4 linked regions of the Homo sapiens genome follow. The protein of the gene in region 4 interacts with the protein of the main gene of each other region in a pairwise test. Each region holds a gene or a part of one and is shown on either strand. Other genes may lie near its edges. The genes, in order: AQP3, TFR2, CLTRN and OLFM4.

What was found.
Region 1: the proteins of OLFM4 (region 4) and AQP3 interact in binary tests that used the Homo sapiens proteins (3 or more experiments, as listed by UniProt).
Region 2: the proteins of OLFM4 (region 4) and TFR2 interact in binary tests that used the Homo sapiens proteins (3 or more experiments, as listed by UniProt).
Region 3: the proteins of OLFM4 (region 4) and CLTRN interact in binary tests that used the Homo sapiens proteins (3 or more experiments, as listed by UniProt).

Annotation. Positions count from the first base shown.
Region 1 is NC_000009.12:33,444,582-33,452,561, forward strand, and holds the start of AQP3 (aquaporin-3), read right to left. Parts: upstream 3,013-7,980; 5' UTR 2,950-3,012; coding exon 2,842-2,949; intron 1-2,841. UniProt on the Homo sapiens protein: Aquaglyceroporins form homotetrameric transmembrane channels, with each monomer independently mediating glycerol and water transport across the plasma membrane along their osmotic gradient. Could also be permeable to urea.
Region 2 is NC_000007.14:100,624,553-100,631,573, forward strand, and holds part of TFR2 (transferrin receptor protein 2), read right to left. Parts: intron 6,674-7,021; exon of another isoform or gene 6,604-6,673; intron 6,501-6,603; coding exon 6,337-6,500; intron 4,821-6,336; coding exon 4,701-4,820; intron 3,755-4,700; coding exon 3,672-3,754; intron 3,585-3,671; coding exon 3,521-3,584; intron 3,423-3,520; coding exon 3,355-3,422; intron 3,269-3,354; coding exon 3,192-3,268; intron 3,110-3,191; coding exon 3,025-3,109; intron 2,940-3,024; coding exon 2,712-2,939; intron 2,352-2,711; coding exon 2,211-2,351; intron 2,199-2,210; exon of another isoform or gene 1,798-2,198; intron 1,679-1,797; exon of another isoform or gene 2-1,678; intron 1-1. UniProt on the Homo sapiens protein: Mediates cellular uptake of transferrin-bound iron in a non-iron dependent manner. May be involved in iron metabolism, hepatocyte function and erythrocyte differentiation.
Region 3 is NC_000023.11:15,661,803-15,669,090, forward strand, and holds the start of CLTRN (collectrin precursor), read right to left. Parts: upstream 3,004-7,288; 5' UTR 2,974-3,003; coding exon 2,916-2,973; intron 2,594-2,915; coding exon 2,535-2,593; intron 1-2,534. UniProt on the Homo sapiens protein: Plays an important role in amino acid transport by acting as binding partner of amino acid transporters SLC6A18 and SLC6A19, regulating their trafficking on the cell surface and their amino acid transporter activity.
Region 4 is NC_000013.11:53,038,795-53,045,815, reverse strand, and holds part of OLFM4 (olfactomedin-4 precursor), read right to left. Parts: intron 3,907-7,021; coding exon 3,694-3,906; intron 2,712-3,693; coding exon 2,552-2,711; intron 1-2,551. UniProt on the Homo sapiens protein: May promote proliferation of pancreatic cancer cells by favoring the transition from the S to G2/M phase. In myeloid leukemic cell lines, inhibits cell growth and induces cell differentiation and apoptosis.

The sequences.
Region 1 (7,980 bases), on a different chromosome or scaffold from region 4:
AGAGCGGGACTCCATCTCAAAAAAAAAAAAAAAAGAGTTGAAAAGAAAAGCTCATGTGGTGGTGGTAGTGGTGGCAATGGGCGGCATAAATAAATAGGGAGGAGACCAGAAGTGAGGTTGAATCCACTTCTCCTGAGTCCAGGATGCCAGAGCCCCAGCCTTCACCATGTCCCCCTCAACAACCTCCCCTTCCTTTACCTGTCCCTGTCCCAGCGTCTCCTCTCTCCACCCATGACCTCTCTGCTCTCAGGGGTCCAGATTCCCCACTCAGATTTGGAGGTCCTACAGACAGGGATCTGTGTGGCTCCTCTCACTATCCCCAGCCCGGGACCCAGGGCTGTAGAAATGGGGAGATCGGTTCTAAACTTTCTGCCAAAAATGGGGGAACTAAAAGAGACTAAGAGCCCTGGTGTTCTACAAATATAGAACATACTGGAGCCAGCTGTGGTGGCTCACACCTGTAATCCCAGCACTTTGGAGGCTGAGATGGGAGGATCTTGAACCCAGGAGTTTGAGAACAGCCTGGGCAACATAGTGAGACTTTGTCTCTATTTAAAAAAGAAAAAGAACGTACTATGTCTGTTCCCCTTGTTCAAGCCTGAAAATACTTCTGCAGCAGCTGTAAAGCATTGTTGCCCTGAGCCCCCTGAGTGTCCCTCAAAGCTGCTCCAATGCCTTGCCCTGGTCTCCTCTCCCACCTGCCCATAACTAAAGGTTTTATGCCCACAGAGCAGGCAGTTTCCAGGACCTGTGCTACAGACCTTGTTTATTCTGACGGGTCAGTGCCTGTTGTACTGGATAGTTAAGCATTTTGATTATCATCCCAGAAAGACCAAGAGATAACGGAGAAGCCAGCGGCAATGACATGGGGCAAAGGTGTGCAGGCAGGTGAGAGCAAAGATCAGAGATTGCAGGTGTATGTGTGAGGAGGGGTGGTGGGAGACAGGCACGTGAGGGTCTGAGGCGCCCTGCCCTGCTTGGGAGGCCCTGGCAGCAGCTCCTTGCCTGCCAAAGGCTCAGACCTGGCTCCATCCCAGGACGCCTTGGAGGGAGGAGCTGTCAGAGCCAGTTCCACCACCTTGGGGCTAATCTTCCTCTTCCTCCCCCAACCCCTGCCCTGAGTTCTCGGCCAGCACCGCCCCCTGCCCTCACACCAGGTATCTCAGAGAAAGGGGCTTTCCTCACCCCAAAGCCAACCCTGATTCTGCCACTGCAGGCCTAGGCTCCCAACACGCAGGTAGGCAGGCAGGCACTCACCCACTACAAAGGGATCCCCAGGCCTGCCCCTCCAGTTCATGCAGTCCTTGAAGTTCTGCTTCTCACTGATATCCAATACCTCACATCCATCTGAGTCTGCAACCCTTCCCCTAAAATTTAACACTCTTCTTTTGTGGTCTGGGATAAGCCTGATGATCCTGGGGCTCAGTGGGAGGACTAACGGCTCCTTTGTGAGAGAGTGAACTGAGACTTGGGAGGGAATGAGGAGGCCCCTCTAGGAAAATAGAAGACATCATCCTCCCCTAGCCTGGCTGCTCTAAAACAGGTGGCTGGACTCAGGACTCCGATAGGAGTGAGGGCTCCGAGGCAGGAGAGTGATAAAGGCCACCTCCTATTGCCTTCTTGGCACAGGAGAGAGGGGCTAGGGCTGGCTGATAGGACGACTAATCTTATGGGAGGCTGTGGATAAAATGCCCCCTGTGGCTTCCCCACTTCCTATTCTTGGAAGCCAGAAGTGGGTTTCAGCCCTCCTCTGCCCATAGATCCTGATCCTCAACCATTTGGGGATCCCTACTTGCCCTTAGTTAGGCTTCCTAGTCCACAGTGGGCCAGCTGGTCTGTACTACCCAGGGCTGGGGCAGGAACGGAGTAACCCACTCACTGCAATGTAGCAACTGAACACAGAGGAAAACAGGTGTAACCACATGAGCGGCTGAAAAATCAGAGTAACTGGGACAGGAAATAGAACATAACTGGTGGGTCTGCCAGACCTAAGAAGTGCAAACAGAGTCACTCAGAACAAAACCAGGGTGAAACTGGTGTGACCAAGGAGTAACTAGGACTGAGGAGTAACTCAGGCAGGGAAATGCTCACTCAGAGAACCCACAGAGTAACCAAGAGGCCAGGGAGTAACCAGAATGCTTGTCGTCTTCTGCACAGACGCTGACAGCATCTGTCTGGATAACAGACAGGGCCTGGGAGTCGCTGAGCACCAGGTGAGCAACTTTAGACACGCGTCCTCTGTGCCTGGGCCTAGCTTCCTCCCACCCTTCTACCGTCAGAATCTGCCTCCCTTCCCACTTCGCTGTTCGCAGCCCATGTGGCCTGCACCCTCTGCCCCCACTCGTGCAAACTGTCCTCACTCACTTCAACCTTTGGACTTTTTGAGGCTTAATTATTCATTAGAGGCCAGACACCCAGGACCCAAATAACCTAATAATGGCTCATTTGCCTCCGCCCCCTCCCCTACATCTGGGGGCTGGGATTCTGGGAATCTGGAGGGGTGTGGGAGGCAGGGGAAGTGGCTGGCTGTCCCAGACTGCAAGCGTGACCGCTGCCCCCAGCCTGTTGGCTGAGTCACTTGTGGGAGGGTAAACGATCGGCACTATCACTGGGGAGTAACAGCTGTCATTCTGGCAAGAGTCGGAGCTGTCAGAGAGGGGGTTAGAACCGTGGGGAAGAGGACTTTGGAAGTCAGCTTGATCCTCCGCGGTTAAGCGTGGGGGTCACAGCTGGGGAGGTGGGTCCAGGCTACCTTGGAAAACACAGCCCCTTCGGGGAAGTGAGAGTTTGGGGAGTGCAAGGGCTGGAGAGAGAAGGGCTTCCCCGGCTCCCTCCACTCACCACCAGGATGAGGGTCCCCAGGCACTCGGCCAGCGCCTGTCGGAGCAGCCGGTAGCGGATGTGGAGCATCTCCCCGCAGCGGGACACCAGCTCCTTCTGTCGACCCATGGCGGGGCAGGCGGCGGCGCTGTCGGGCGGGCAGGGGTGGCGGGAGGCGGTGGCGCAGCGAGCAGCGGCCTCCAGCGCTGGTGGCTCCCTTTATAGGAGCGCTGGAGACACGGGCCCCGCCCGCCCTGCAGCCCCGCCCTGCAGTCCCGGAGCGCCGAGGAGTGCGCGCCCCCTCGCCCCCGCCCCACCTCGGCTGGGAGGCTGGTGCGGACGCCGGGTGGAGGGAGCTGCGGGCATGGAGTGTGAGGAGCTTTGAGGGACGGGTGGCCTTCGGAGGGCGCTTAAGGGAGGGGACGTCAAGGGGGCTGAGAGGCTTAGGCAGATCTGAGAGCCAATGGTGGGATTATAGGCAGGGTTCAGGGCCATGGCTGGAGAGGATGCAGCTGTCATAGAGACCACCTGCGCCCTGTGATCACCCCACTTCCTTGCGGGCAGGAGGAGACCTGTCAGAAAGAAACTGGCCGCATCTCTCCAGGATGACTGGACCCAACAGATCCTCAGTTCGAGGCAGGAGGAGGAGGCTGCGAGCCCCAAGTGAGAAGCAACACTGTCTCTTCTGTCAGGACAGATAAGGCACCGACCCTTCAAGGGGACAGCTAGTGTCAGAGGGGCAGCAGTCCAGACTCAGGTGGGCACACAGACACACGTGCTGAGTTCCAACCAGACTTCATGGGCCCTTCTCCCTGTGCTATGAGCACGTCGTGTGTCGCATGTCCTGGCCAGCTATGTCCACAGCTGTGTCTACACATGGCGGATGTCCTGTGTGCCTAATTGTACGGCTGGGCATTCCTCGTGGCTGTGCACATGCCTGTTGAACATGGCTAGGTGACCTAGCTTGTCACACGTGTACCTGCGTGCATTGCTCACATGGCTCCAGAGGCTGAGCTGCAGTTGCCCCGACATGCCACATGCCACATGTTTGCCAGCAGGCTGAGTCCCAGCTGTTTTTAACCCTCTCCTCTCCCATCTGACTTACCCCCAGCCAAGGAAGAGTCTGTCTCTTTTTTTTTTTTAGACGGAGTCTCTCTCTGTCGCCTAGGTGGAGTGCAATGGCGTGATCTCGGCTCCCTGCAACCTCCACCTCCCAGGTTCAAGTGATTCTCCTGCTTCAGCCTCCCGATTAGCTGGGATTACAGGTGCACACCACCATGCCCAGCTAATTTTTGTTTTTTTAGTGGAGATGGGGATTCACCATGTTGACCAGGCTGATTTCGAACTCCTGACCACAAGTTATCCACCCGCCTCAGCCTCCCAAAGTGCTGGGATTACAGGCGTGAGCCACTGAGCCCAGCAAGTCTGCCTCTTTAAGCAAACTTAATTATGGGGGAGTCAGCCCTATCTGAGGGGGATCATGGGACAACCTTGCCCTCTCTCTCTTTTTAAAGAGTAGGGTCTTGCTCCATCACCCAGGCTGTGGTGCAATCACAGCTCACTGTAGCCTCGAACTCCTGGGCCCAAGTGATCCTCCCACCTCAGCCTCCAGAATGGATGGGACTATAGGGACTATGTGCCACCATGACACTCAGCTAATTTTTAAAAATCTGTTGTAAAAATGAGGTCTTGCTATGTTGCCCAGGTTAGTCTCAAACTCCTGGCTTTAAACGATCCTCCCACCTCGGCCTCCCGAAGTGCAACCTTGCCCTCTATGCTGCTTTTAATAACAAGGAAACATCTGGTGGCCTGGGAGCAAACAACATGCCCTTAGGCTGAGCTTCTATGGCAGCATTGCCAGAGGAGATCAAAGAAATCATTTTCCAGAGGGACTTAATCCAGGTGGGCTAATGACCCTGAGGACTTGTCCCTTGAGGGACGAATATGAGAAATAAGGGCCCCCGGCTGGGCGTGGTGGCTCACGCCTATAATCCCAGCACTTTGGGAGGCCGAGGCGGGCAGATCACCTGAGGTCAGGAGTTCAAGACCACACTGACCAACATGGTGAAACCCTGTCTCTACTAAAAATACCAAAAATTAGCCGGGCGTGATGGCGGGTGCCTGTAATCTCAGCTGTTCGGGAGGCTGAGGCAGGAGAATCACTTGAACCCAGGAGGCGGAAGTTGCAGTGACCTGAGATCATGCCATTGCACTCCAGCCTGGGCAACAAGAGCCAAACTCCATCTCAAAAAAAAAAAAAAAAAAAAGGGCTCCCACGGTTCATTGAGAAGCGAGCAGGGCTAGTGCAGAGGTTCTTCTCCCAGAGGGACCAAAAGAGAGAAGGGTTAGTCCTGTCGTCCTTGATCAGAAATGTGATCAGCACCAAGAAAGCCCCAGGGGCCACTGGGACCTACAGTCAAACTATGTTAGGTGACAGGACCATTGACATTTCAGGACAGATAGGCATGGACCCTTCAAGTGGACAGGTTGTGTCAGGAGAGGTAGCAGAAGAAGCTAAACAAGCTCTTAAAAACATGGATGATGACTCACTCCAGCCTCTAGCTCATGGGATCAAACAATCCTCCCACCTCAGCCTCTCAAATAGCTGGGACTACAGGCATGCATCACGATGCCCGGCTAATTTTTGTATTGTTTGTAGAGAAGGGGTTTCGCCATGTTGGCCAGGCTGGTCTGGAACTCCCGAGCTCAAGCAATTTGCCCACCTTGGCCTCCTAGAGTGCTTGGATTGTAGGATTATGAGTATTGCTAAACCCATCTCTTTGGGCATCAACCACCTCTGCCACATGCCTGTAATCCCAGCTACTCGGGAGGCTGAGACAGGAGGATCACTTGAACCCAGGAGGCAGAGGTTGCAGTGAGCCAAGATCACCCCACCTGGGTTCAAGCGATTCTCCTGCTTCAGCTTCCCGAGTAGCTGGGATTACAGGCATGCACCACCATGTCCAGCCAATTTTTTTGTTTTTTGTTTTTTGTTTTTTTTAGTAGAGACGGGGTTTCACCACGTTGGCCAGGCTGGTCTCGAACTCCTGACCTCAGGTGATCCACCCGTCTCGGCCTCCCAAAGTGCTGGGATTACAGGCATGATTCACCGTACCTGGCCTAGATAGGCATGTTAAAAAAGAAAAGAAAAGAAAGGAAATAAGGGCTCCCAGTCCCAGAGGTGGTTCATGCCCAAAGAGATGGGTTTAGCATACACATGAAGTAGATTCACATACATGCAGGTGCTTGCGCATACACACACACAAACACACAGACACACACACACACCCTGTGGTTTGCAGTCACACACTTGCCTATAGACACTGAGCTCTGCTCCCATGATCAGGGATCCCATTCACATGAGAGCCTCGCCATGGGCTCACACATATATAGAACCCCCACATGAGGACTCTAATGACCCTTGACCCAGAAAGATGCACCCTACCCTCCAGGCCTCTATAGGCTGGGAGGCCCCGTGGTGAATCAGGGAGCCATCACTGAGTACCTGCCCTCTGGCCCCACTGCCAGCCTGTGACTCAAGACAGAACCATAGACTCCTGGTGCCAGGGCCCAGATCACAGGCTATGGGAGTGGTAGAGCACCCCTGCCATGCTGCCCCCTTTTCCTCCCACCCTATAATATGCATCCAGCCCATCCCTGCCTCAAGTGGAGCTGCAAAGGCAGCACAGGGCAGAAACTGGCAAGGGACTCCTCAACACCGAAAGAAAATAGGGAAACCCAGCCCACAACACCCCATTGTCACCCTGTCCCATCCTGGGTCTGCTGGCATCCAAATCTAGCCTGGGAACCAGAGCAGGGGAGAAAAACAGGGGAAGCTCTTTCACCAGCAGACACTACACACACTTCTATTTTTTATTTCTTTTCCTCTTCCCTTATAAAAGCAACCTGGAGGCCGGGCATGGTGGCTCGCGCCTACAATCTCAGCTCTTTGGGAGGCTGAGGTGGGCGGATCACAAGGTCAGCAGATCGAGACCATCCTGGCCAATAAGGTGAAACCCCATCTCTACTAAAAATAAAATAAAAAAAAATTAGCTGGGTGTGGTGGTGGGCGCCTGTAGTCCCAGCTACTCGGGAGGCTGAGGCAGGAGAATGGCATGAACCTGGGAGGCAGAGCTTGCAGTGAGCCAAGATGGCGCCACTGCACTCTTGCCTGGGCAACAGAGCGAGACTCCATCACAAAAAAAAAAAAAAAAAAAAAAAAAAGGAACCTGGCCTGGAGCCGGGCACAGTGGCTCATGCCTGTAATCCCAGAATTTTGGGAGGCCAAGCCAGGCAGATCATTTTAGCTCAGGAGTTCAAGACCAGCCTGGCCAACATGGTAAAACCCTGTCTCCACTAAAAACACAAAAATTAGGCCGGGTACGATGGCTTGCTCCTATAATCCCAGCACTTTGGGAGGCCAAGGCAGATGGATCACCTGAGGTCAGGAGTTCGAGACCAGCCTGGCCAACATGGATAAATCCCATCTCTACTAAAAATACAAAAATTAGCCAGGTGTGGTGGTGTGCGCCTGTAGTCCCAGCTACTTGGGAGGCTGAGGCAGGAGAATCGCTTGAACTCGGGAGGCAGAGCTTGCAGTGAGTCGAGATCGTGCCATTGCACTCCAGCCTGGGCAACAAGAGCGAAATTCTATCCCCTCGCCAAAAAAAAATTAGCCGGGCATGGTGGTAGGCACCTGTAATCCCAGCTACTCGGGAGGCTGAGGCCAGAGAATCGCTTGAGCCCAGGAGGCTGAGGTTGCAGTGAGCAGAGATCGCACCACTGCACTCCAGCCTGGGCGACAGAGACAGACTCCGTCTCAAAAAGCAAATAAACAAAAAAGCAACCTGCACACACATCTGTCTGCATTCACCTCACATGGGTTTTCTCGTGGGCTGCACCAGGAAGTAGCTAGTTACACACACAATTATGGATTTGTCTGTCTTATATACGTTGAGCAGCATTTATTTATACATATGCAGCTACCTGTACTCACCCATGTATGCATGCATGTATGTGTCTATCTATAATCCTGGACTGCAGCTCACCATAGAGTATCTTTGCAACCCCCTCCAGTCAATGCAGCTGCATGCCAAGGCACATGGTTTAGCTAGCAGAACAAGGGCTGGGTCTCAATGTCCTTGTTCCCCACCCCCTCCA
Region 2 (7,021 bases), on a different chromosome or scaffold from region 4:
ATGGCTGTTTCAATAAAACTTTATTTACAAAAACAGGGAGCAGAGGCTCACGCCTGTAATCCCAGCACCTTGGGAAGCTGAGGTGGGAGAGTCGCTTGAGCCCAGGATTTTGAGACAAGCCTGGACAATATAGTGAGATCCCATCTCTACAAAAAATTTTAAAAATTAGCGGAGTGTGGTAGTGTGTCCTTGTAGTCCCAGCTACTCAGGAGGCTGAGGTGAGGTGAGAGGATTGCTTGAGCCCGGGAGGTGGAGGTTGCCGTGAGCCCAGATCATGCTACTGCACTCCAGCCTGGGCAACAGAGTGAGACCGTCTCAGAAAAAAAAAAAACAAAAAAACAAGCGGCAGTTTGAATTTGGCCAATGGGCAGTAGTTCACCAACCCCTGGTCTAGAGCCATAAAATTCACTGGGTCTGGCCCAATCCTGTATTGCAGGCTCTGAAGTCCTGAGTCCTTCCCTCTCCATCCCTGAGCCTGAGTCATGCATCTTTTTCTTTTTCTTTTTCTTTTTTTTTTTTTTTTTGAGATGGATTTTCGCTCTTGTTGCCCAGGCTGGAGTGCAATGGCGTGCTCTCGGCTCACTGCAACCTCCATCTCCCAGGCTCAAGTGATTCTCCTGCCTCAGCCTCCTGAGTAGCTGGGATTACAGGCGTGTGCCACCATGCCCAGCTAATTTTGTATTTTTAGTAGAGACGGGGTTTCTCCATGTTGGTCAGGCTGGTCTCGAACTCCTGACCCCAGGTGATCCGCCCACCTCAGCCTCCCAAAGTGCTGAGATTACAGGCGTAAGCCACCGTGCCTGGCCTAAGTCATGCATCTTACACGCAGGTCCCTTTTATCCCTGGTGGGGACAGGGGTATGGCAACTTTGAAAGGTGGGTGTTTTTGTCTTCTGCATGCTGACACAGCTGAGGTTAAACCAAGATCTGTGAATGAGAATGAACCATACCCAACCTATTGCCTCACCCCAGGGTCACCCCTGTTCCAGTAGAGGAGGCAAAGGTTAAAGAAGAATGAATGGAGAAAGAGATATAAGAAGGAGAGGAGAAGGCCAGGTTCAGTAGCTCACGCCTGTAACCCCAGCAATTTGGGAGGCCGAGGCAGGAGGATCACTTGAGGCCAGGAGTTTGAGACCAGCCTGGGCAACATGGTAAAACCCTGTCTCTACAAAAAATAGAAAAATTTAGCCGGGCGTCATGGCACGTGCCTGTACTCCCAGCTACTAGGGAGGCTGAGGTGGGAGGATCACTTGAGCCCAGGAGTTGGAGGTTGCAGTGAGCAGAGATGGTGCCACTGCACTCTAGTCTGGGCAAGGGAGAACGAGCAAGAGCAATAGGTTTGTAAATGGCCAAGGGGGACAGGCAGAGGGCACAAGCAGGAAAATGCAAGGAGGAGAGATAACATGAGCCTCCAAGGGGTAGCCATGCTGGCTCTGAAAACCGTGAGTGTGTGTGCACAAGTGGCTCTGTGTACACTGCAGTTCCCAGCTCACCCCACACTCATTGAGGATGATCCTGTTTACTATTTTGCCCTGCAGACCTTTCCCCATGGCCACAGTCCCTACTCACCCATTTCTTGACATCAAAGGGTTGAGGGGTTGAGTTCTTGGAGTAAGAAAATGGAAGGAAGTGGAGGAGTTGGAACTGGAGGTGGGGTGTGGGCTGCAAAGGATTCAAAGCTAAGCAGAAGGGATTGGTGAGGGAATAAGCTCTTGTTTAACTTTCACGTGACACCTCCTCCAGGCAGCCTTTCTGGATTTCACCCATTTCATTATCAGAAGGAAAACAGCTCTCTTACTCTGAATATCTTTAGCCTTCTGCACTTCCCAGCCTGTAACCTCGTATTGTGGACCAGTGTGGACATGCTTTTTCTTTCCAGAAGGGTCGAGGAGGCAGTGGGAGCTATAGGAGGGGAGTCAGCGGGGAGGGGTGGGGGAGGGTGGATTGTCCCAGTTCTGCCAGGCGTAAACCAGGCGACTGTGGCCAAGAGGCTGGCCCTCCCTGTCCATTTCATCACTTTGATCGCTCGGGTCCTCCAGCCTGACCGATCTATGAGCACTGCGTGTCCAGGACTGGGAAGAGAGCATCCAGAGGACCGGGACTGTGTAGGCGGGGAGAGAGAGGAGCGCGCAGACGGGGCCAGGTCCAGGAGGTGGAGCCCCAGGGGAGGGGCGGGACACTGGGGGCGGGGCGAGGAGGGCGGGGCCTCACCCGCATTATGCGCACGTTGTACATGCGTGTCAGTCGCTCGTCTCTCTCCTCCGAGCTGTAGATCTCCTGCCGCAGCTTTTCCGCCGCCCGGATGTAGTCCCCCCGCGCCGAGTACACCCACTGCAGGGTCAGCCCGCGGGCCTGGGGTGGGGAGGCGCGGGCTGGGGCTGGCGGCAGGGGCCAGGACCCCCGCCTAGCATGGGGACAAGGACCCCCGCCTAGCATGGGGAAGGGGGCTGGGACCCCTGGCCGCAGGAGGGAGGAGGTAGACGAGGACAGAGTGCTGGAGGCAGGATGAAGGGAGTGGGGAGAAGATCCTGCACCTGCCAGGTTGGGCGATGGCACATGCTGGGGGCTGGGAGACTGGAGGCAGGGGGTTAATGGGCTGGATTGCCAGAGAGGACCTAGACCCCAGGGAATGCAGAGAGAAGGGGCTGGACCCCCTGGCCTGGGCAGTGCCTCCCACTCCCAGAGACCAAGAGCGGGGTGGGCCTCTTGAACCTTGAGGTCCCCAGAGAACTCGTTGAGGTTCCCGATGTGCCTGAGGACGACGTCCCCGTAGCGGCCGAAGTCGAGGGGCAGCAGGCGATCGTGGCTGAGCCGGATGAGGAGCTGCCCTGCGAGCTGGGCCACGGCCTGGGCCACGGCGGGCAGGCGGCCTTGCAGCACCTTATGCAGGTTCTCATAAGTGTCCTCCTTTGTGTGCAGGAATGGGTAGGCCTGGTCGTCCTGCCAGGACAGGGTGGACGCTGGGGCGGAGGCAGACAGGCTGAAGGACTAGCGCTGTGTCTGGGGCAGGGGGAGGACGTCTCACCTCCATAAAGGAGAACTCGACGGCAGGGACTCCCACAAAGGCCGTGAAGGAATAGGCACTGCTGTCCATGGGTAGGGGCCGGATCCTGGGGGCAGGTGGGTTGGAGCGATCTGTGGGTTCAGGCTCCCCCACATCCCTCCCCAGCTCTCCCTACCCCCCCAACTTACACCTCAGCATCCCAGCTGGGATTGGTGAACACCACCTGTTCATAGAGAGTCTGCCCACTGTGGTTGGGAGAATCCACCTGGGGGTTGGGGAAGGGCACTGATCAGGCTCTGCTCCTCCCCGCAACCTACTCCCCTTCACCCCCTATTCCTGGGGTGCTCTTGCCTGCTTCAGGACACTCTCAATGAGACTTGTCAGAAGGGGGCTGGTCTTGGCATGAAACTTGTCATCCCCTGGAAAAAGGGGAGGGGAGGGATGCCAGGCTCAGGGCTCAGCCCCAGAGGCAAGGGTGGACCCCAGGGGGCCAGGTGGTGGCACTGCCCCAGCTCACCCAGCACTGCGTTGTCCAGGCTCACGTACACTACGGCTTTGAGGTGCAGCACGCTGAGGTAGCCCTGTGGGTGGGTGACCAGTGTGGAGTGGGAACCCCCCACCCCCACCTCTCCCCAATGCCTAACGACCTGCCCGGGACCCCGTATCACCTCTAGCCACTCCGTGGAGCCCACGCTTCCAAAGTCACCACCGTCCCAGCTGATGAAGAGGAGACTTCTGCGGGGCCGGAAGCCTGGGGACAGAGGGGAAGGAGGACAGGCTTAGCAGGGGCCAAGCAAAGACCCTCCCCTTGTCTTCTTCTGTCCTGGTCCCCCAGGGTCTCTGTTTCTCTGTCTCTCTCTCTGAGACAGGATCTCACTCTCTCGCCCAGGCTGGAGTGCAGTGGTGCAATCATGGCTCAATGTAGCCTTGACCTCTCAGGTTCAAGTCATCCTCTTGCCTCAGCCTCCCAAGTAGCTGGGATTACAGGCATGCACCACTAAGTCCAGCCAATTTTTAAAAAACTTTTGTAGAGATGCAGTCTCCCTATGTTGCCCAGGCTGGTTTTGAATTCCTGGTCTCCAGCGATTCTCCTGTGTTGGCCTCCCAAAGTGCTGGGATTACAGGCATGAGCCATCACGTCCAGCCCAACATGCTTAATCTTGACACAGACCCATGGACTATGATTATCATTCATGTCACTTTTTTTCTTTTCTTTTCTTTCTTTTTTTTAGAAGGAGGCTCATTCTGTTGCCCAGGCTGGAGTGCAGTGGTGCGATCTCGGCTTACTGCAAACTCCGCCTCCCAGGTTCAAGCGATTCTCCTGCCTCAGCCTCCCTAGTAGCTGGGATTACAGGCGCCCTCCACCACGCCTGGCTAATTTTTGTATTTTTAGTAGAGGGTTTCACCATGTTGGCTAGGCTGGTCTCAAACTCCTGACCTCAGGTGATCCATCTGCCTCGGCCTCCCAAAGTGCTGGGACTACAGGCGTGAGCTACCGCACCCGGCCTCACTTTCATTTTTAGGTGACGAAATAGAGGTGAAGTGACTGGCCCAGGGCCACTCAGGTACAATGTGGATGCCGAGGTCCAAGTGACCACTGGCCAGTCTGTGTCCCTCACTGCCTCTCTGCCCTATCCTCCTCGGGCCACAGGCCCACCGCTGCCTAGCCCAGGCCCAGGCCCTGGCCCTGACCTTACCGTTGCTCACCATGGAGGAAAAGGTCCGCACCAGCTCCAGGAGTATAGCCGTCCCCACAGCGGATTTAGCTGCTCCTGGGCCCCATGCATCCCTCTGGGCCCCGATGACAACGTAGTGATCTGGGGAGGGGATGTTTGGGACCCACTTCTGACACTGCACCCTGCACCCTGGGGGCATCCTCCATCTGCCTGTGTCTCTCAGCCCATCACAATTCCGGCAACCCTAGCCCTGCAGTCCCTCCAGTCCCTAAAGAGGGCGCCCCTCCCCACTTGGCCCTTCCTGGATGGTGTGCTCCTTCAGCTGGGTGCCTGAGGTCATTCTGGACTTACAAGGTTTCTGTCACCCAGGCTGGAGTGTGCAGTGGTGTGATCATAGCTCACTGCAGCTTCAAACTCCCTGGCTCAAGCCATCCTCCTGCCTGAGCCTCCCAAGTAGCTGGGACCACAGATGTGTGCCACCATGCTCGGCTAATTTCTTTTACTTACTTACTTATTTATTTATTTAATTTATTTTTTGGAGTCTCGCTCTGTTGCCCAGGCTGGAGTGCAGTGGCACGATCTTGGCTCACGGCAAGCTCCACCTCCCGGGTTCACGCCATTCTCCTGCCTCAGCCTCCTGAGTAGCTGGGAGTACAGGCGCCTGCCACCATGCCCAGCTAATTTTTTTGTATTTTTAGTAGACAGGGTTTCACCATGTTAGCCAGGATGGTCTCGATCTCCTGACCTCATGATCCGCCCACCTCGGCCTTCCAAAGTGCTGGGATTACAGGCGTGAGCCACCGCACCCAGCCAATTTCTCTTATTTTTAAATTTTTTGTGAAGTCTTGGCTTTGTTGCCCCATCTGTCAATTACTTATTTTAATTCTCCACTGCCATCCACATCTAGCTATGCTTGAAAGGGCCATCTATGCTTCTATCTAATCTGATCTGATCTTTCTTTCATGCTTGAGTCTTCCTTCCTTCCTTCCTTCCTTCCTTCCTTTCTCTCTCTCTCTTTCTTTCTTTTTTTCTTTCTCTTTCTCTCTTTCTTTCTTTCTCTTTTTTTTCTTTTTCTTGAGACAAAGTCTTGCTCTGTTGCCCAGGCTGGAGTGCAATGGCACAATCTCGGCTCACAGCAGCCTCCACCTCCTGGGTTCAAGTGATTCTCCTGTCCGAGCCTCCGGAATAGCTGGAATTACAGATGCATGCCACCGGGCCCAGCTAATGTTTGTATTTTTAGTAGAGACGGGGTTTCACCATGTTAGCCAAGCTGGTCTCAAACTCCTGACCTCAAGTGATCCACCTGCCTGGGCCTCCCAAAGTGCTGGGATTACAGGCGTGAGCCACCACACCCGGCCCATGCTTGAGTTTCTATTACAACATCATCCAACTTAGGCTTACTCACTTCCAGTGCTGGGGAGCTCACTACTGGGCAACAACCCCCATTCCATCACTAGACAGGCTGGAAGGTGAGGTCTGTTCACTGCTGCCACCATCAGACCCAGTTCAGCCTCAACTTGCCAGCTTCCCTCCTCTGGGCACCACTCCTGTCCCCTCTTGGGGCCTCCTGCACCAGCCCCCTATCTTGCCAGGGTGTATGGGCAGAAATTCCCCCAGCCCACCACCAGCTGTGAGTGATACTGGACACACAGCATACCTGGCTCTGAGCGGCCTTCGATGCAGCCGAAGATGTTGTTGATGGGGGTGGAGGTCCTGTGATTGTTGACCACTAGCCGCAGTCGTGGCCCGGGGCCCAGGTGATAAGGGGAGCCTAGGAGGCTCCCCTGCCATTCTTGGGGGGCCACAGGGCCTTTGAGCTTCCTGGAGAGGAGGAAGGCAGAAAGGGGGAAGTTGTAGAGAGACCCAGAAGAGTCCAAATCACTCTTTTCCTTATTTCTTTCCCTCCCACCCTTTCTGGCTCCAGATCGCTGCCTCTGGACGCTGCCTGGGTAGGGCAGTGCAGTCAGGGCTGCCTTGGATGGTTCTCAGCTGAGGTAGGTGTGCAATCCAGTGGGAACTTTAGTTGCCAGACAGTAGACCCTGGAGAAAGGCTGTGTCCATCCAGAAGAGTCACTTTTTTTTTTTTTTTTTTTTTTTTTAAAGAGTCAGGGTCCCGGCCAGGCATGGTGGCTCACACCTGTAATCCCAGCATTTTGGGAGGCCGAGATGGGCGGATCACTAGGTCAGGAGTTCGAGACCAGTCTGGCCAACATGGTGAAACCCTCTACTAAAAATACAAAAATTAGCCGGGCGTGGTGGGGGGGCACCTGTAATCCTAGATACTCTGGAGTCTGAGGCAGAAGAATCACTTGAACCCGGGAGGTGGAGGTTGCAGTGAGCCA
Region 3 (7,288 bases), on a different chromosome or scaffold from region 4:
GAACACATCTTTATATGCCACGTGTGGCTTCACAGACCAAATGGTACAAATTAATTGCATATATTTATCTATCAGTTTAGATTCCTTGGTTCCTCATTTCAATAACATGTGCCAGGACCTTAAATGCCCCAGCTCACCTTGCTTTTTGCACACATCTAAGAACACTCAAACCATGGCTAACCCCACATTTTAGGTAAGTAACTGGTATAACTAGAGACAATTACAGAACAGGGTTAGTTGGTTTAACTCTAAATTCATGATGACCTACCCCCAAATTGCCTGGGAATCCCTAAGGTTTCACCATCAGTTCTCTTTCTCATGGGTCACATAACTATTTCAAACCTCTCTCTAGAGAGAGAACTGATGGTCAATGCTTTTTTTTTTTAACCATTTTTCCCAATGGTTTCCCTCAAACCTCACTCTCACTAAATGGTTTTGCTTCATAATTTATAGATACATCTCATCAATTTCAACTCTCCCAACCTCCTGACATCAAGATACAACACTTCCTCCATAGACACGTCTTAGCCGCCTCCTCTCCTGAAGTGCCAGACAGAACTATGCCTATCAGAGGCCATTTCCGTCACTTATATTAGGAATGCTTCTCCTCTGCCCTTCTCAGATCTAAACAATATCAGTTCCCCTCCATTCTGTGTATTTAGCTCTGACCGGAGTCTGTTCATTGTCTTTTAACCAAGCTCAAGACTTTCTCATTAAAGCCATAGCAAAGAGCTGTTGTTTTGCAACAGCAAAAACAAATCATTTTACTCAGTCTTCCTTTCTTCTACCTACTGCTATCTCTTTCCTGCCCTTCACAGCCAAAATTCTCCCAGGAGTTGTCCACACATCTGTTTCAACATGTTCACCACTCATTTATTTTTTAACTCCCCACTATCTGTCTTCCAGCTCCTCCACCCCACGAAAAGAGCTCTTTCTAAAATCACCATTGACCTCCATATTGTCCAACACAATGAACATTTTTCAGTCGCCTTCTGGCTTGGCCTCTCAACGGCATTTGATGCTCTTGAACCCTCCCTACATCTCAAAATGAAACTCCCTAACACAGCCCACATATTCCTTGGCCTGCCTGCTCCTCTCTCTTTAAGCTCATCACCTGCCATGTTCCTCCTCACTGCCCCAATTCCAGATATTTCTGCCCTCTTTCTAATCTTTACTCTCACCAAGATCCTTCCTGTGATAAGCCTTTGCACATGCTGTTCCCTCTGCCTTTCCTTCTTTCATTTCCTGTAACACTTCAACTCATGCTTCAGACATCACAGTAAGTGCCAGGTATTGTGGGCCTTGACAAAGCCGAAGTGCCCTTGTACTTCTTCCCGTAATACTTGTCAAGATTGCACATTTGCATTTGGTTTACTGAATATTTAATAGATGACCAATTCTACTACTACTATAAGCTCCACAAGGGTAAGGACAAGCCTTAATCACCATTACATCCCAGCATTCAGCATCGTACCTGCTATTAGAGGATACTGGGATGGCCAACCCTGCACACTAGTAGAGACAGTGTATTCTGCACTCAGACTGCCTGGGCTCAAATCTTACTTCTGCCACTTGCTGACTTGAAATATTGAGCATGTTACTTAATTTCTTTGAACCTCAGTTTTCTCATCCATTCAGTGGGAATACTAATACCTGTACTACTATCTTCCTCAAAGCATTGTTGTGAGGGCTAAATGATTTGATAGGAGTAAGGTGCTTAGAAGAGCCCCAGCTAGAAAGTAAGATAAGTTCTCAATAAATGCTGGCTGTTATAACAATCATTACTCATTGAGTCAATAATAAAATACCAAATTGATGAACTGGCCTGCAAACAGAATACCTCTAAGTTTCTTTAGCACTCTTTTTTCTGTTTCTATGCCTAAGGCATCTTAACGTCACCTTCTATTGGGGAAAAAATTTTGCAGACCACACTAGGAAACTGAAACTAGAATTAGACAATACTGTCTTTTTAATTCAATGATCTTTACCATTCCTATAGCCACATGGGCCCTATGACTATTTTTTAAACTTCTATTTCATAAGCATATATTTCATATGTTACTTTGATAATTGAGAATAATTGAAGAAACTTCAGGTTCAAATTGGAAATTTTTTGTGCTATGAAAGACTTTATGTGGGTAGAACTATCCCTTATTTTCAATGGTAGAAAATCGAGGCTAACAAAATTCAAATGACCACAACGGTGAGGAGTAGACCCAGTCCAGACCTGAACGACTGACTCAGGCCACTTGGCTTCACTATCCCGAGTTGAGATGCTGGTTTTTTAAGTTGTTTTGTGTGGCACAAAACTTCACATGTTGCCTAGCATACACTACTGATTAAATACTTTAGGCAAACCTACTTTATTAAAAATTCATATTATTCTATAATCTATCTTTAAGAAATCAGATTTGAGGTCTTTAGAAATAATTTATTCAAGATTAAGGTAACTATGCAGACAGGCCCATTATTAGAGAAAGCACAGTGTTATTAGCAAACAAAATTTAAAAAGAACACTCAGGTGCTCCACTTACTGCTTTATCTCCCAGAGCTGTTCTGATACTAAGTCTCACTTTAAAAGCATTTTCTGCACCTGCCAGAAAAGAAAAAAGAAAGAGCAGTATATGATGATTAGGATCTGCCAAAACAGAGTCTGAAAAATCCTAATATGTAATGCAACTCAAACTAATGGAACAAAGAACTACAATTAAACAGCCCCAAATACTCCTGGAAGTTTAACCTAAATCATCTTAGATGGTTTAATATTTTCTTTCAAACTCATTAAACACTCACTGCCCCAACTTTCAAGCCACAACATGTCTGCAGATTTAGAAAAATAAAGAGTTCTTTCAGTCGATGACTTGTCAAACATGTAGAAAACTGTTCATCTATTTTTAAATTTCAAGGCTACATACCTGGTTGACAGAGTTCAGCATGAATGGCAGTCACCAGAAAAAAGAGCAGCCACAACATTCTTTCAGGGTGGAAAACACAAGGCAAAGTGAGAAAAAAAAAATCCACGCTGCACTTAAATCTGCCTTAGCCATTCTGTGACCCGGATTAGAATATCAGAGAAACAAGCGAGCCACCACCAAAAAGGTTTAATGATTAACACCCATCATTTGGGTTAATACTTCCATAAAAACAGCCCATCTCCTGTCAGTTATTTATGAAAACCTGTTTGGAAAACAGATTAGTTGTTTTCCCTACTCTGACTCTACCTCAAAAGAATGTCTTCTTTGCTGACTCAAAGTTGGAATCCTCCCCGACCCCTTCTGCGATTCTCTGGTTACGTGTATGATGGGAAGAATTGAGTCCTGTCTAGAGGTTTCCTTGACATGCACTTCCCACCTTTTCGAGGCTGAGATACCTGGTTCTTAGATAGGCTATCTTCATTCAGGAAACAAACGTGACTCCCTTCTCTCTGGTAAACAAAGGGTGCCCTCCGTGAAGGGCCTCACCTGACTCTCACCACAGCGGGTGAACATCCCAGGAGAGCTTCGGAGCTTCCTCTTACCTACTTAAGGTTAGAGGGTGGGAGGAGAGAGAGGATCGAAAAACTACCTATCGAATACTATGCTTATTATCTGGGTGACAAAATAATCTGTACACCAAACTCCAGTGACACACAATTTACCTATACAACAAAACTGCACAGGTGCCTGCACATTCACACATAGGGAATGATTGTGTTCAGCCCTGAGGTCTGGCACTTGAATTAAATCAAAGTTAATGATACAGAGCAGCACTGTCCAAGGGACATTCTGTGGCGATGGGAATGTTCTGTGTCTGTACTATCCAATATGGCAGCTACTACAGGTAGGAGGCCATTGAGCACTGGAAATGGAGCTAGTGTAGCTGAGAAATGGAATTTTTGTTTAATTTAATTTAAGTAGGCACATGTGGCTACTGACTACATTGGTCAGTACAGCAATACAACAGTAATTAAAAGTTACCCACTCTGAAGTACCTTCACTGGGTTATTTCTCTGATCCTCAGACACTTCACAATTGTTATCATCATCTCATACGGGAGGGAACTGAGGCTCCAGCGTTGAAGTCATTGGCAGCAATGGGATGAGTGGGATGGGTGTCACTTTACCAGCTAGGTTGACTTACACTTGAACCCTGTCTCCACCACACCCAACTGCTCTGTGTCTCTGGTCACCATTGGTCAAAATTGGAATTGATCAAATACCACAGTCTCACTGATAAGTGGGAGCTAAACATTGAGTACACATGGACACAAAGAAGGGAACAACAGACACAGGTACCTACTTGAGGATAGTGGGTGGGAGGAGGGAGAGGATCGAAAAACTACCTATCGAATACTATGCTTATTATCTGGGTGACAAAATAATCTGTACACCAAACTCCAGTGACATACAATTTACTTATATAACAAACCTGCACATCCACCCCTAAACCTAAAATAAAAGTTTTAAAAAACCCTGAAGTTGCAACAAAGCCTCAGAGATGCTCTGAGAATTAAGATAATGCGTGTAAAAGAATCTTTCCCCGGTGGGCATTCCACAGATGCCAATCAACGCCCCGCCCAGAGGTTGATGTCAGGACTTTCCTCTCTACCATGCTGCCTCTTCATAAATTCAGTCCCCAAATTCCACCCCATTCCTCAAAAGTCATGAATGGCAGAATTAGATTGGGTGACTCTGGTGTTAAATAGAAACATTGGATTTTCAAAGCAACAACGAGGAAAATATCAACAATGAGACTTCTGCAGCACTTTGAGAAACACATCATTTCTCCCTCCTTGCGAGGGTGGTATTTTATTGTAAAGGACCCACATCCATCAGCTAAATCCAACTGAGAAAGCTTTTTCTCATCTCCTTCACCTTGGTTGCAAGGACACGGAGTCAGGAAAAGCTGTACTAAAAGGAGAGGGAGCCACAACTTAGTCCAGCCATCCTAGCAATGTCACTGTATTAGGTGCAGTGGAAATTTCCAGAAGGAAGAGCTCACCTAGCTAACATCTGAAAAAAATAAAGCCAGACTAGATGAAGTCATCTTGGGAAATGTTAAACTAGATAAAGTCATCATGGGAAGGAAAAGTCAATACACATAGAGATTGTAACAAAGCATTTTACTTACATCAAGGAAGAAAGCTATGCTAAGAACATAGAAATCTGCTTCAGCGGCTGGGCACAGTGCCTCACACCTGTAATCCCAGCACTTTCGGAGGCCGAGGCAGGTGGATCATGAGGTCAGGAGTTCAAGACCAGCCTGGCCAAGATGGTGAAACCCCATCTCTACTAAAAGTACAAATAATTAGCCGGGCGTGGTGGCAGGTGCCTGTAGTCCCAGCTACTCGGGAGGCTGAGGCAGGAGAATTGCTTGAACCCGGGAGGCGGAGCTTGCAGTGAGCCGAGATCGTGCCACTGCACTCCAGCCGGGGCAACAGAGCGAGACTCCATCTCAAAAATAAATAAATAAATAAATAAATAAATAAATAAGAAATCTGCTTCAGCTTTCCTTTAGCCTTACACTTCATAAAAGTATCAAGTGGCTTTCTTTGGCTTTTACTTAGTCATTGATGTAACTCGGGTTGAAGACAATAGAACACTGAGTCTTAGTGTAAGTCATTCATTTGAGAAGACAATCTCTTTTGAATGATGGTTTCTCAATGTTTGTTGTATCATCTTTTCAAAAAGAGCAATAGAAATTCTTTTTAGAAAATACAAAGCAGCACAAGGAGAAAAGTAAAAATCACCTGTAATTCCATCAGCGTCAACGAATGACCAATTGTCAATGTTTTCTAAATATTTGGAACATATCTTTCTGCCTTGTGCTTTCTTTTTTGTGTAAATACATGTACATTTCTTCTTAAAAACAAAACTGGGGTCATGCTATTATGCAGCTTTGTCATCTTTGTTGAACTTAACTGTGTTTTGTTGTTGTTTGTTGTTTTTTTTTAATAGAGACAGGATCTTGCTCTGATGCCCAGGCTGGAGTGCAGTGGCACCATCTTAGCTCAGTGCAGCCTCAACCTCCTGGGCTCAAGCAACCCTCCTGCCTCAGCTCCCAGAGTAGAAACACAGAATTCTTCTTCAGGTTCCTTTAGTCTTGCATTTCTTAAAAGTGACAAATTTCTTCATAAGCTTTTAGTCATCTATGTAACTAGAATTGAAGACAGTAAAATATTGAGTTTCAGTCAGTGTAAGCCATTCATCTGAAAAGGGAAGACAATCTCTTATTTCATTATGATTTCTCAATATTTGTGTTCTCATTTTTAAAATGATTGAAAAAAGCAATAGAAATTCTGTATAGACAATATAGAGAAGCAAAAAAAAGTAGAAAACATCCATAATACTACCAGAATGGATGACCAATGCTAATATATTTTCATAGTTAGAATGCGCCTTCCTTAGCCTTGGATCTCTTTATATGTTCTTGTAGGATGTTGTTTTTTCTCACTGCAGTGGCACTATCAGAACAGAGTAATACAATGATGGGAATAAGACGCACCCTTGTCTTCTTCTTTACTCTAATAGGAATGCCACTACTGCACGGAATCTGGCAAGTGGCTTTAAAAATGATGTGTCATGTGATACGAGCATTATATTTGTAATTACAAAAAATTATTTTCCTCAGTAATTGGTGTTGCATTTTATCAACTGCTTTTCACTATTAAAATTTTTACCATTTGGTGTATTACATTAATACATTTTTCACATTGATTCAATTCTTAGATAAAACATTTTTTTAATTTATTTTTAGTATGCTGCTGGAATCAATTCCTGGTTTTTCCCCTATGATTTTTAAACCTATTTTCTTAAAAGAATATCAGGTAGGTTCCTTTTCAAGTGCTGATTCTTGAAGCGTTTTTTTTCCTAGCCTTTACCATCTTGAAAATGATACAGAAAGATTTCTAACATTGTCTATGTTTAGAAATACATATAATGTACCAGAAATAAAGAGTTCACAGATGAAGAATCTGGACCATGTGCATTTTAGAGGAAGAGTTCTTCAAAATTTTTCATTCCTTACATTATCATTTATTTCAGGTTTTATACCTCTTTCTGAATCCATTTTGGCTGTTTACAATTTCCAAGAAAATATTCTGTTAAGATTTTCTAGTATCCTCATGGACTTTATAGAGTATTTCCCATAAAATATCTACTTTTGTTGTTATGTTCTCTTTATATTTTCTAATACGTGTATTAATTTTCTCATTTTGATTATATTATCTTTGTTGTTTAATCAAAGAAGAAGATCTTGGACATAATTTGCAATTCTTTCTGTTTTTTGATTCATAAATCTTATTTATATTG
Region 4 (7,021 bases):
TGAAATGAGGCAGAAAAAGGACGTTGTTTGTAGCAAAAACCAAATAGGAAGCATATTTTATTGAACCTGGGATACATTCACTTGTTCTAAGTTCAAGCTGACCACTGGGTCAGCAAACTGTAGCTATAAGGGAGGGGGCCCAGAGAGCGCAGAGTTACTTTAGAGCTGAGACTTGCATATAGTCTTTTTTATTCTGTGCAACTCTGCAGTGAAAAAAGCAGACAGGCCAGATTTTAAAGTCCCATAATAGAGAATAACTTTAATTAAAGTCTCCACAGGCTCACAAGTTTGTGGTGCTTGGGGATTTTCCAATTCTGCATTATCAACCAATCCAAACAGAAAGAGAGCAAGTGAAAGAAATTGATTTAAAAACATGACCAAAAGTCAGTTTAATATAAACATCATAAATATAATATGAACAAAGCTGGAAGAGAGCCAAGTGGCTTGGCAGGGATTCAGGTACAGCCAAGGTTGTGGGAAAGTGAGTAAAAATCTGGGTCCAATTTGCTTAAACAACACAGCTGGGCTAGGATGGATCACAGAAGTCTAAGTGTGAGGGCCTAGGGGAAAGTTCTGGGAAAAAAAAAATCCAACAAAAACAACCCAACAGGCTCACTTGTTTTCTTCCCTGGATACTAAGCAATGCATTTTCTCCCCACCGTTGTCCTTGGATTACTGCTGCCTGACACCTTCGGTCCTGAACTGACCAGGGAGCAAAGACCCTTGCCTTGCAGCTTCTGCTCTGTCATTAACTACTTGTGTGGCCTCAGGAAAAGCAGCGTTCTTACCATCCACGTCTTCTCCTCTGAGACAAGACGAGGCTAAGTTAGATGGCCCTGAATATTCCTTCATCTAAAATGTCCTCATTCTAAGGGATGCATAGAAAATTGTGCCAGAAAAATCTATTCCATGAGGAGGATTTGCAAGGGGTGTTGGGGAGCTCGTTCAGGGATTATCAGGAGTTGTCATTGCTTCAGCCTCTGCCTCAGTGAGTCCTCTGTGGTCCACCAGAAACAGCTCTCATTTGCTACATTTTTGCACCACTAATCCCAGACTAAATTTAGCCTTAGTTTATTACAGAGGACAGACCATGTTGTCTGCCCTAAACCTCCTATGCAGGATGCGAAATTTGAACAGTTGTTCAAATTTATGTCACCTCCTTTCTGGAGAAGTTGAAAGGCCATTTCATTCTGGGGCAGGATTCTAACCATTAGATGACACCTGTCATAGTAGGACACACTCCTATTTGCAGAGGGAGGAAAAAAATCCACCTGAAGAAGACCAAGAGGCTTATATCTATGGCTATACCTATTTAATAATTGAAGCCTTAAAAAATCAGTTACAATGACAATAATCCAGAAACACAGTCTAAAAGAAAGCAGGTGTGAGGATTGGAATTCATAAAAATAAAAGGATTGCATGATTTGATGAAAAGATACAGTCCCCACTCAGGCTAAGATGCTCAGGACCTGCAGAGAGAAGGTCCCTGTGTCATTGATATCTCTAAAGGATGGGGCTGAACACTGTGGCTGAGAGGCTTTAGTTTACCTGAAGGAATGCATTGCAGGGCACAGTAATCTGGCACTGCTTTTGTTTTGCTGCAAGGCTTTCGCTTCAATTATCAACATTATTAACAATATCCATTGCCAGCGTGTGAGTGCCGATCATAAGGTTCCGAGCTTCCCAAGCACTGACTCATTAATCCCCACAGCCACCCTGCAAGGCAGGCACTATTATTCTCCCATTTTACAAATGAGGATATTAAGGATCCTTTTTGCTGCAGCCACCTAGCTGAGAAGCTCAGGTCTTTGGAATTCTAAAGCTATGTTCTTGTACCCTACACTCCACTGCCTCTGTTCATGGGTATATTTGCAGAACACCCACCTCTGTGCTGTACTTAACCCCAATGAGAATTCATTAAAGACGAACATGCCACCCCTACTCCAAGAACTCACAATCCATGAGGAATGGCAAGACACACCCACAAGCACATGATATGTGGGGTCATTCCTTTAATCCTCACTGAATCTCAGGACACACAATATAGCAGGTGCTCAGCATGCATTTATAGGAAGAAAAAAGAAAAAATTAAAGAGAAACAGAAGGAGAGAGAGAAGATGGCAGCATCAAAGGCATAAACCCAGCTCATCAGATAAGTGAGCCAATCAGTCCTTAACTCCACAGGAAAGTGGATGCCACACACAGATTCCAGAGGCTTTCCCCTGAGGCCCCTGATAGGGCCTCCATCACCATAGAGATTTTTGTTCCCTGTTAGAAAATGCAAAGAGAATACGTGTAACTCGTGGATTTTGCTTTAAATCAACTCATTGTTTGTGCTCTTCCTCTTTGAAACCCAGAATATGATAGCATGTAGAATACTTGGGAGGAAGGGAATTTTAAAACATGGAAGAGAAAACTGAGAACTGAAAAAAAAAAAAAAAAAACAACCCACCTTCTTCTTTCACCATTGCAATCCCCAATCCCTTCCCCACCCCACTCACAGCTCCTTATGGGGTCTGGCACAAGTGGTTAAAAAAACTGGCATGCTTACCTGGAGTGGGAGGAGGGTGGACGACAGGGGTGTTTTGATCTTTAGAGGCCTCACACTCTTTCAGCTTGGTCTTCAGAGCCACGATTTCTCGGCGAATGGCAAGGACATTGTTTTTGTCTAGTGTCTCAAGCTTCTCTACCAAGAGAGTCATATTTCTTATCTAAGGAAATAAAAATTCAGAGTGACTTTATATTATGGTGCAATTTCTTTCATAAACATTCCAGGGCTGAATTTGTCATTTAGTGAAACATTGCCAGAGAATACACCAGAGATTCTTCTGAATGGTTTCATTTGGAAGAATACATTTTATGGTTTAGCATGAATGCCTGTCAGATCTCAGGCAGATGTGTGTGACAAGAAGAAAATGGCAAAGATTTTAATAGCTTTAATAATAGAGCCCAAGCTCATCCTCAGCATCCACAAATGTCCATTAAAGTTCATTTCTAATAACCTTCCCCTATAAACTTGTGTTTACTCATGTTGTATTATAATTAAGATTCTAATGAATGGTGAGGGCCAGAGAAAGCTTAAATTCTAAAATACGTAACTAGAATTCTCAATTATAGCCCATGTCATGACTGTGCTAGTAAATTTTTGTTGATATAAATTACCCAACCATAACGTTAATGTGATGGTCTTTATCCACAGATCTTAAAAGGCTTTACAGAAATATACAAGAAATTTCTTAAAGGGGGTTTCCAGTTTGCAGAGAAGGATTCCAGGTTATTCAAAAGGAGAAACAAACCTAGCAATTTTACCACAATCAGGTATATTGTGGATTTCTAGTTCCATGAGGATAAATCTAGAGCAGAGAAGACACCTCATATAGCTTGGCCATGAACCGTTGTTCAACTTTATGCCAGCTCCTTTTCAGAGAAGTTGAAAGGGCATTTTATTCTGGGGCAGGATTCTGACCATTAGACAACATCTGCTCCTAAGTCAGCACATTCCCAATGTGCTTAACTTACTATTCAAACACATGCCCTTATCCAAAACAGAACATAGTGATATGCCATGTGGCCATGAGACAGTAGAGAATTAGAAGTTGGAAGAGATAGTTTCACTTCCTGGTACTAGTACTTGCTTACAGTCACTGAAGGGAGTTTATTATTAATTTACCAAGAAGTGAGTTCACTCCTTACCTCCACCTCCAGCTGGTCAACAATTTCTGAGCTTCCACCAAAACTCTCCTTCAGCTGTATGACCAGTTTTTCCATCTCCTTCACTTCTACCTTGATCAGCTCGAAGTCCAGTTCAGTGTAAGAAATGGTATCCTTCTCCATGATGTCAATTCGGACAGTTAGGTTTAACAGTTTCTTTTCATACACACTAATTAATTGGACATATTCCCTCACCTGAAAGAAAATCAAAAGGTTCAAGCCAATTCCCTGAGTAGTATCACACCATCTTCTTCCACTACCGAGCCCTTGAGTTGAGAACTATTTGATTCTTGCCAATCATTGTGTTTTGTAAATAAATAGATCAAAAATACATTTAACTAGATTTTTAAAATCTATCCATATACAAAGAACTTATTACTCCAATTGAAGGGAGGTAGATTTTATACTTTGCTAGGCTAAACATAATTTTGCTTCAGCATCATCATTTGCAGGTATATTTTAATCTCCATTTTTTAAAAAGGTTTTAGGCTCAGGGGTATATACCCAGGTTTGTTATATAGGTAAACTCATGTCATGGGGGTTTGTTGTAAAGGTTATTTTGTCTCGCAGGTACTAAACCTAGCACCCAATAGATTTTTTTGTTGTTGTTCCTCTCCCTCCTTTCACCCTCCACCCTCAAGTACGCTTCTGTTGTTCTCCTCTTTGTGTCCATGTGTTCTCATCATTTAGCTCTCATTTATATGTGAGAACATGTGGTATTTGGTTTTCTGTTCTTGTGTTAATTTGCTTCGGAGAATGGCTTCCAGCTCTCTATCCATGTTCCTACAAAGAACATGATCTCATTCTTTCTTATGGTTGCAAAGTATTCCATGGTGTATATGGCCCATATTTTCTTTATCCAGTGTACCATTGATGAGCATTTAGGTTGATTTCATGTCTTTGCTATTGTGAATAGTACTGCAATGTACACACACGCCCATGTATCTTTATGGTAGAACAATTTATATTCCTTTGGGCATATACCCAGTAAAGGGATTGCTAGGTTGAATAATAGTTCTTTTTAGTTCTTCGAGTCACCACACTGCTTTCCACAATGGCTGAACTAATTTACACTCCCACCAACAGTGTATAAATGTTCCCTTTCCTCTGCCATCTCACCAGCATCTGTTATTTTTTTACTTTTTAATGATAGCCATTCTGGACTGGTATGAGATGGTATCTTACTATGGCTTTGATTTGCATTTCTCTAATGATCAAGTGATATTGAGCCCTTTTTTCTTAATCTCCATTTTAATGTTTGAAGACATTAACTCCCCAAACTAAACTGGTTTGTATCATAGTCTCTTGCCATCTCTCCTCCCTTCAACACACTTACTCTAATTGTTTCTCAACCTCAGCACTGTTAGCATTTGGGACTGGATTGTCATTTCTTGTGGGGGTTGTGCTGTGAATTACACAATATTAAGCAGCATCCCTGGCTTCTTCATGCCAGTTGCATCCAACCACTCTCCAGTTATGATAACCAAAAATGTCTCTGGGCATTGCTAAATGTTCCCTGGGGACAAAATCGTTGCCACGGCCAACACCACCCTCCTTCCATTTAGAAACATGGCTCTACATCTAAGTATTTTCTGGAGAAGGGAGAAATGCGCTATGCCGAATTCCTTCTTTGATCGCCATATACAATTAGTTTTGATCCCCTCTGCCTTTTACAAAGTGGCATAGAGATCCAACCTACTACACAATATGTGAGTGTGTGTGCCCTGTAGAGTACACATTTCATTAAGTGCACCCACATTTATTCCAAGAACTGATTATTGCAATCAGACCTTTAAATTACAGATTTGTTGCATATATTTGAATGTCTGATCATTAAGTTAAAATACTTCCAAAAATTCCCTTGGCAGTTTAGTGTATAATTGGAATATCCAAGTGGATATTTTAATAAACACAGTTGGTGGTTCTTTCTGTGTCTGATCTCTAAAGAAAATGCCATGGCTTTTTTAAGGACCTGCTCATTAAATAAGTTGCTGGCTTTATATGCTTTTTAAAAATTTGAACTGAAGTGATACTTTTCCCAAAACTACACTAATATCAAGTAGCTGATCCACAGTGCCTGGATGAATTTAGAGCCAGATGTTGGCCTTTAATCCTTCTTATACCAAAAGCAATCCTAACTTCTGTCATTTCAGCCCTTCCACTTAACCCCATTGTGCAAATTAAAGTAGACTCATAGACCACAGACCTGAAGGGCTAGGGCTTCAGGCAAAAAGGATTTTAATGAAAGTCGAAAAAACAGTCCTTGGCACTGCTAGTGTATCTCCTCGGGCAACTGATGCTCACTGCCATTGGATGTACCATAACTCGGAGGATGACAAAGCTGGTGATATTTTGGTGGATAGGGAGGTTAAAACATATATACGGCCACCTCTTAGTATCCATGGTGGATTGGTTTCAGAACCTCCCAAGAATAACAAAATTCAAGGATGCTTAAGACTCTGACAGAAAATGGTACAGTATTTGCCTACAATCTACACACATCCTCCCAAATACTTTAAATCAAGTCTAGATTACTTATAATACCTAAAACAATGTAAATGCTATATAAATCATTGTTGTATTGTTTTTTATTTGTATAGTTCCTGTTGTTACATGGTTATTTTTATTAGTTTTTTTCCGTGAAATTTTTCAATCTGAGTTTGGTTATATCTGCAGATGCGGAACCAAGGCTATGGAGGGCTCACTATATATAAAACCTAACAAGTCCCCCTGAGAAGTGCACTGCAGATATAGGGCTGCCAGGTTCCAGTGTCTACAAAACTCAGGCATAAAACCTTGACTATGATAAAAATAAATAAAGTGCCAATCCATTACAGAAATGGAAGTTTGAGAAATAAATATGCTTGTTGGCATTTGGCCTTGCCAGCTCTTGGAACAAATGAAACACCCTCAGCTTCTCTGGAACATTTTGGTGGCACATCGCAGCTGTTGTTCTACAAAAATGAGTGATTCAACTGTCATCTCTGCTAAATAAAATGTGGTTCTCCTAGATTTTCACAAAAAAAAGCAAGGCATATTCTGGAGTTTGTTACCTATAAAAATGTGTGGTGTGCCTGCCCTGGTGCAGACAAAATGAAGGGTCTGTAAAGATCCATTTGAGGAAAAAACTCAAGGTTCTTCAGCTGACACTTAAAGGATGCTCAGTGGTGTTCAGGAAAATGGCAATCATCCATGGAGTTAGAGAAGACACAAAAGAGCTTGGGGATGGGCCAGAAAGACTTCAGAGTGTGAACTTTACTAATTTAAGTAAATCATTCATATGAACTTTTCACATATATGAATCTGTAGC